Homo sapiens: one gene and its partner. The protein of the gene in region 2 interacts with the protein of the main gene of each other region in a biochemical or structural test. Each region holds a gene or a part of one and is shown on either strand. Other genes may lie near its edges.

Region 1 (3,932 bases), on a different chromosome or scaffold from region 2:
ATTATTAGGCAGGGCATTGTAGCTCACGCCTGTAATCCCAGAACTTTGGGAGACTGAGGCGGGTGGATCACTTGAGGCCAGGAGTTCGAGACCAGCCTGGTCAACATGGGGAAACCCCGTCTCTACTAAAAATAAAAAAAATTAGCCAGGCATGGTGGTGGGCACCTGTAGTCTCAGCTACTGGGGAGGCTGAGGCAGGAGAATCACTTGAACCCAGGAGGCACAGGTTGCAGTGAGCCAAGATCTACCACTGCACTCCAGCCTGGGTGACAGAGGGAGATTCTCAAAAAAAAAAAAGTTATTATTATTAAACAATAAAGATTGCAAATAAATGAATTATAAGTTCAAGAAGCTAGAAAATGAATAATGACAAAAGTTAGAAGGAAGAAAATGACAAAAATAAAATGATCAAACAGAAAGAAGGAAAACATTAAAATCAGTAAGCAATCTAAGGAAAGACTAAAAGTACAGTACTTTGAAAAGACTGCTAAACCACAAATATACAACATCAGAAATAAAAAAAGGGGGTATAGTTACAGGCATATAGGAGATTTTTAAATAATGAAAGATAACTCAGGATGAACTGGAAAATCTTCCAAAAATCTGACACAAGAGCCAAAACAGATTAATGCCATGGCAAAAATGGGAAAAGTTCCCAAAAATCTACTATAAAAAAGGCACCAGTTCCAAGATGGTTTTTCAAAAAACTTTTATAAGCCTAAATTTCTTATATTCTTCAAATTGTTCTAGAGCAGAGAAATTATAATAGAATTTTAACATTCACTGAGTATTTAATATGTGCCAGGCACTACGCTAAACAATTTATATGTACAGTTGGCCCTCAGTATCTGCAGGTTACGCACCCGTGGATTCAACAAATCTTGGATCAAAAATATTCAGGCGAAAAAAAATCAATTAAAAAAGTACCACAATAAAAAAATATACAAATTCAAAAATATAGTAAAACAACTCTTTACATAGCATTTACATTGTATTAGGCATTATAAGTAATCTAGAGATGACTTAAAGTATACAGGAGGGGATGGGTACAGTGGCTCACACCTGTAATCCCAGCACTTTGAGAGGCCTAGGGAGGGTTGCTGCCTGAGCCCAAGAGTTCTCAAGACCAGTCTGGGCAATGTCGTGAAACCCTGTCTCTACAAAAAATTTAAAAATTAGCTGAGTGTGGTGGTGCACACCTGCAGTCCTGTATAATCTGGTGGCTGAGGTGGGAGGATTGTTTGAACCCAAGAGATTGAGGCTGCAGTGAGCCACGAGTGCAGCACTGCACTCCAGCCTGGGCGACAGAGCAAGACCCCGTCTCAAAAAATAAAAATAAAATAAAAAATAAAGTATACAGGAGGATGTGTAGAGGTTATATACAAATACTATGCCATTTTATATCAGAGACTTGAGCATCTATGAATTTGAAACAGACTCCCATGGATCCCGTGGGATGGCTGCATTATCACGTTCAAAACATGAAAGCTTACAAATTCATTAAGAAATTAGTATAAGGCTGGGCATGGTGGCTCATGCCTGTAATCCCAGAACTTTGGGAGGCCGAGGCAGGTGGATCACCTGAGGTCAGGAGACCAGCCTGACCATTATAGTGAAACCCTGTCTCTACTAAAAATGCCAAAAAATTAGCCAGGCATGATGATGTGCACCTGTAATCGCAGCTACTTGGGAGGCTGAGGCAGGAAAATGGCGTGAACCCGGGAGGTGGAGGTTGCAGTGAGCCGAGATCGCGCCACTGCACTCCAGCCTGGGTGACACAGCGAGACTCCATCTCAAAAAAAAAAAAAAAAAATTAAAAAAAATTTTTTAAATCCAAAAGATAGAACCAGAGATAAAGCCAATTTCTCCTAATTTATTGCAATTTCAATCAAAATCCAATAAATATGTAAGTTTTAAAACTGCATAAATTGTAAGAGCAAAAGAAATGCATACATTTTTTTCTTTCGAGGAATTTGTTCCTGAATTCTTTAATTAGTCCCTTAATTCCTCAACGGAAACAACAACAACAACAGGCAAAGGACCTAAACAGGCCACTCGCAAATGCAGAAACACAATGGCCAATAAACAAGTGGAAAGCCACTCAACCTTTACAATAAGCTAAGAAACGTGGTGATACCAGCTGTTGAGGAGTCGGAGGGGAAAGCTTATTCTGATAGTGTGGGAAGTTTATCCTAAAGCAGGAAACAAATCACAGTCAGTTTAGCAGATATGTAGTTCAGCAAATATGTGGTTTAGCCATATATAGTTCTGAGTTGTCAAAAACCAGCGAAAAATGCTTTCATTTTGCAAGTGGATCTCTAAGAACCAAGAAGCGCCTTCTATGAACAATCTATTGCTAATGGTGAAAAGTTCACATAGTTATGCTACCTTTTTGGCTAAAAGAGGGAAAATAGGACCTGATAAGATTGCTCCTACCTGCATATATATTCGTAAAGAAACTCTCAGAAGAAACATTCAAAACTAGTAACAATGGCTACCTGTGGATGGGAAGAGGGAGAAGTGGTGGGAATTAGGCAGTTGGGCATGGACAGAAGATTGCACTCTCTCTCTCCTCTTTACAAATTTTGTTCGTGAACTGTACGAATGTATTACCTATTAAAAAACTGAGTTAAAATCTGTTTAATAAAAATAATTACAACTGGATGTGATTTTTTTTCCCCATACAGACATTCTCAGATAGCGCTGCCTGGTGTTAATGGTTTCAACTTTTCAGACAGAAACTAACTACTTGTCTCTGATCCTAGAATCCAGCCTTACTGAGATTCCGTGTCAGTGCTCTCGGAAAATTCCACTAAATTCTAAAGGGCAGTTTGGTAACATGTATCAAATGTAGAATTCCCGTCCCCCTACACCCAGCAGTGGCACTTCTAAAAATTTATCCTAAAGAAGTTACTGGATAAAGATGCAAAGATGATTCTGCAGCATTATTTATTACAGGAGGAAACTGGAAACTTACTATCCACCTGCGTGGGGACTGGCAGCATAAATTGTGGTCATCAACACGGACACTGCATATCTGCAGACCACATTTAGAGTTGCAAGGCCCCAGAAGCTCCTTGTCCTCAGCTGTGTGACTCTTTGGATCTTTGCTCCTCTCGCCCTCTACCTGGTACTTGGATGCACCACCCCACCCTGTGCCGGCCTACTCACCTGGTCAGCGTAGGGGTGCGGTGGTTGGGGTTGGAGCAGAAGATGTTGTTGGTCTTGCGGGTGCCGTCCAGGAACTCACGCACCGACTGGTTGCGCAGCTCTGCTAGGGGCCGGGCCTCGTGCTTGAGGAACCACTGGTGTGCCTCGAAGCACTTGGCGCAGAGGAGCTGCTCGCACTCAAAGCACCAGAAGTCGGCCGACTCTTTGCAGCGGGTGCACACAGCCTGCGCATCCACAATCTGCCGGTACACCGACAGGCGCCGCTGCAGACTCTCGAAAAAGACGTTATCCAGGGCGGGTGTGTCTGCACCTAGGGGCCAGGGCGCCTGGCAGATGGGGCACTGCATGCCCGACGCCTCCAGGCATCCTGAGCACAGCGTGTGCAGACAAGGCAGCAGCTTCGGGCACTTGGCTTCCGCCTGGCATTGCTGGCAGCGCAGAAACTGGAACTCCTCCTCCGAAGCGGGGGCTCGCTGGGGGACCAGAGAGGCAGGTGAGGCCTGGAGAAGTCCCAAAAGCCCCCACCTACCGGCCAACCACCCTTACAGCTGGACCCTGGAGTAGGACCTCATATTCCATTCCAGCCAGTCATTGGATGATGCAAAACCCTGGCTTATCAGCACCCCAATACCCCCATTTATTCAGGCCCTCCAGCTCTCACTGCACCATTTATTGAGCATCTACTTCTCATCACCCACAGTAATAGGCTCTGAGATATAAGAGGTGTAGGATACATTCTGCCTTCAAGGAACTCAGTTTGG
Region 2 (4,364 bases):
GCCCACGTCCAGACACTGATCCAAGAGACATGAAAACACAGCAGGCCAATGCTAGTTTCAATAACGAAAGGTTAGAGGGGGCCATCCCTGGAAAGCATCCAGACCTGATGAAATAAGCAAAACTGGCTAAAAATGACTCTGTCCATCTGCACTAACGTGGAAAGATTTCTACTGTGTAGGGGAAAGAAGTGAGTTATAAAATCATAAAATGTGCACCAAAAAACCCCAAAAGGTTTAGAGATCTCAGAATGGTGGGATCACAGTTATTTTCCCTTTAATCTTCATGTTTATACTGTATCACTATCTTTTTTTTTTTTTTTTTTTTTTTGAGACAGAGTCTCTGACGCCCAGGCTAGAGTACAGTGGTGCGATCTCAGCTCACTGCAACCTCTGCCACCCAGGTTCAAGCAATTCTCCCGCCTCAGCCTCCCAAGTAGCTGGGATTACAGGCACCTGTCACCGTGCCCAACTAATTTTTGTAGTTTTAGTAGAGATGGGGTTTCACCATTTTGGCCAGGCTGGTCTTGAACTCCTGACCTCATGATCCACCCGCCTCAGCCTCCCAAAGTGCTGGAATTACAGGTGTGAGCCACTGAGCCTGTCCTATACTGTATCACTTTTTTTTTTTTTTTGAGATGGAGTTTCCTCTATTGCCCAGGCTGGATGCAATGGCATGATCTCGGTTCACCGCAACCTCCACCTCCCAGGCTCAAGCGATTCTCCTGCCTCAGCCTCCCGAGTAGCTGGGATTACAGGCACCTGCCACCACACCCGGCTAATTTTGTATTTTCAGTAGAGACAGGGTTTCTCCATGTTGGCCAGGCTGGTCTCGAACTCCCGACTTCAGGTGATCCGCCCGCCTCAGCCTCCCAAAGTGCTGGGATTACAGGCGTGAGCCACCGCGCCTGGCCACTGTATCACTTCTTTAAAAAACAACAAAATTTCTAAAAGGCAAAACAAACAAACAATTGTACTGGCGCTCTGGCCGAGGAAAGCCGCCCTGGACGCACCTTCCGAGTTCAGGGTGATGAGCGTGACGTTGCTCCCGATGCTCTGACTGCCCGCCTGCCCACAGCTGGACACAGAGTCGCTGGCCTCCGAGCCGCTCTCCCCGTCCTCGTGGTGGCTGTCTTCTTGGCCCGGCACCTTCACCACAATGGTGTTCTGCCGACGCCCAGGCACAGCGCTAAACGGGAAAAAAAACACACCAGCCCGATGTGGTAAGAGCCGCAAGCAGCACGCGAAGGTCAGCGCTTTCCTTATCGCAAAATCTAACTCTGTGTGGACCAGTGGATCACACAGCCTTCCCATACTGCTCTCTCTACCAAGATTAATAGAAACTCCATGGGAGAAAATGGCCTGGGGCTGAAAGAAACTGTATAAAATAAAACTTAACCATTTAAAGAAAATGTTTGTATCACAAAAGGAGTAAAATCATACTCACTGGGACTCAGGCCTAGCATGCTGCCTTCTGAGTTCAGTAGTCATCCCATAAAATGCTGGTAAGAGTCTTTTTTCCGGCGAGGTTAAAGGGAAGACTAAATGAGGAAAACTGTGCCCAGAGGCCTGGGTCAATTCGATCCACGCTGCTGGGCTCGCTGGAGATGGCTCCCCCTCGCAATGCGAGCAGCACTCCCACGTACGCCCACGGGCAAAAAACCCTGACGGGGCTTAAAAAACCCACTGAGATCCCATCGGAGCTGCCATCATCCCAAGGGCTGCTGATGTGGAAGGACAGAACACTGCTAGCAAAGCAGGGCGAGGCCACCTCCACAAGTGCTCAAAAAAAAGGATGATTTAGAGACTTACTACTTCCCTTTTTTAGTGACCCTTTCAACATCCTCTACCGTGGACTGCTACGCACCAGCAGGAGAAAGGAGCACAATTTCTCTATATGCAAAGTCAAAAAAAAGGGTGTTGAAAACACTGGCCGCACCCAGAGGAGGGCGCTGCACTCTGCACTTTCTGGCCTGGATTCTCTAGAGCGCTGTCCACGCTGAACCTGATCTCAACACTGGCCATCTGCCTGGCTGACCTCAGTGCAAAGCCCCTGAGGCACAGCTGACCCTGGCACCTCCTCACCGCCCATCACCAACTCCTCTCCCTTCACCCCACGTATCAGACCCTTGCGACCACAGCTGCGGCCCTGGAGAACTGAGCTAAGACAATACAGAAAGGGGACGAAGCTGGAGGAGGAGGAATCCACAAAGGAGACTGAGAGAAAAAGCAAATAGAACTTTGTGAAGACACAGATGGGAAAGAAAAAGCAACAGCATCCTCAGGGGTTCACGCAGCCCCAGGGGCACTCCTGGGGACAGCAGGGCTTGGATGCCAGCCAGAGGCCACTGCACAGCCTTCCCCTCACACAGAGCGGGGACGGTGTCTTCTGTCCACTCCCACCTCTGACCAAAGTTCCATTCAAAATGTCTCAAGAGAAAAAGGTATAAGAAAAAAGTCATAAACTCAACATGCCTGCACCACTTAGCAACCGTGGGAGAGGGCGTCTGTTTGCCTGACACGCTCTGCACAGACAGACGTGAGGACCACTGAGCTAGGTGGGAGGATGAACGCTTTCACAGACTGCTGTGAGGAGACAGAGCCAGCCCCCTCCACAACCCCGGCCAGCACGAGACACAGAAGTCCCCGGCGGCAGCTGCCCCTGGTGTGGCTGGACTCAGCATTCAGCATCGCCCAGCCTGCCCTCCCCGACCTCAGAGAGCTGGGGCGGTGCCTGCCAGGCTCAACCCTGTGACCACAGAGATGAAGCGTGTGCTGGACTGTGCCCTGGCTTAGGGACGTTGACTTATTCTCATGGGACTCCGCACAGTGGCAGGGAAAGGTGGGGTTGGTGCCGTGCTACTGACTTGCTAATGACATTTTCCAGGGAATCCGGTGCCCTGTTGCTCAAGGGGTCTTCCATCTTGGCTACAATGGCGTTCTGCCGATCATTGTTGAGTATTACTGTAGTCTGGGGGACGACGCTAGGGAACAAAAGAATCACAAAGAAAAAGAAGGCCTTAAAACAACAACATTCATGGTAAGAGCACATAAGAGTCATTCAACACAGTCCACTCCCAGGGACCCGCACTGAGGGGGAGGCCTAAGAGTCATTCAACATAGTCCACTCCCAGGGACCCGTCCTGAGGGGGAAGGAGCCCCAAATGCTAAGGAAGAATAAACTGGAGATGGGGTTTTTAGCAGAACGTAACTTTTCCTAATTGTTGGTGATCTGTCTGCACAACTGGATAGCACAGGACAGCTGGGCTGAGGATGCTGAACTTGTGACAGAATAGACTGCAACCGCACCAGCTGTTATCGCACCCAGTTAATAAAGCTTCTAGGGTGGCACACTTGCATGAGAACTGGCTTGACATTTTCAGTCACTCCATCCCAACTCATTCCTATGGGACAGATCTAACGTTCGTAACCACGTAAGTGTTGGTATCATTCCAAAACGGTAGCGCCCTGGAAAGAAAGGGGCAAACATCACGTTGGACTTGGGATGGAAGGACACACATGCTGCCTCCAGGTCCTGCAGGAACATGTGTGAGCTACAACCAAAGGGCTCAGGGTTCTGCTTTGAAGGAAAAGATTCTACAAAAGAACAGACCATGGCCCAGAAACCAGCAAGCCTGGCGCCACCCTGGAGGAAGCACGAGTGTGTTCAGACAGGCGGCAGCTAACACAGCTTCATCTCAAAGTACAGACTCACCCACAGTTTTCAATCATGCGTTTTTAAGCCTTAGCACTTTCTGGTCACAAGGGATATCTAAGGTCCGCTTTGTTGTGGAAGGCTGGGGAGAGAAAGAACTAGCACTAGAAACACAACGTGATTATCACCTGACAATAAAACTCCATTCTTGGATTTCACTCTCCAAAAACCAACCTGGGAAGCCTGCCTTTCTGTGATCTGCACATAGGAAATTCTAGCCTAGTATCACTGTAACTGTCCCCACATTGAGTGCCAGCACAGCACCACGCCATGCTCAAGTAAATCACAGGACCACCAGGTTTTCTCCTAAAATAAAGGCATAATCAACTCCATTTCATTCAAAAATATTATTTTTTAAATTCCTCTACTTGTTATTGGTGACACCTAACGTTAACACAGCAAAACCTGACAAATGACCTATAGGTCAGGTATGGAAAGTAACCCAGGTGGCTTTTGGCTTGGTCACCACAGTCACCTACAGGCTGTGACAGTCCTATGCTCCTCAGAGATGTAGAACTGGAGAGGCTACCTGACTTGCACGAGCTTGGTATGTTCCCCAAGTGGAGGCTATGGAACACTGGTGGCCCCGGGATCCTAGGCTCACAGCATGTGGGAAGGCTGGTGTCCCCGGGATCCTAGGCTCACAGCATGT

Evidence for each region. Proteins that work in one complex are often made in the same cells at the same time.
Region 1: the proteins of BANP (region 2) and PML form a complex in vitro, tested with the Homo sapiens proteins (one study listed by BioGRID).

Annotation. Positions count from the first base shown.
Region 1 is NC_000015.10:73,997,716-74,001,647, reverse strand, and holds part of PML (protein PML), read right to left. Parts: intron 3,645-3,932; coding exon 3,172-3,644; intron 1-3,171.
Region 2 is NC_000016.10:88,002,912-88,007,275, reverse strand, and holds part of BANP (protein BANP), read right to left. Parts: intron 2,982-4,364; coding exon 2,865-2,981; intron 1,187-2,864; coding exon 1,011-1,186; intron 1-1,010. UniProt on the Homo sapiens protein: Controls V(D)J recombination during T-cell development by repressing T-cell receptor (TCR) beta enhancer function. Binds to scaffold/matrix attachment region beta (S/MARbeta), an ATC-rich DNA sequence located upstream of the TCR beta enhancer.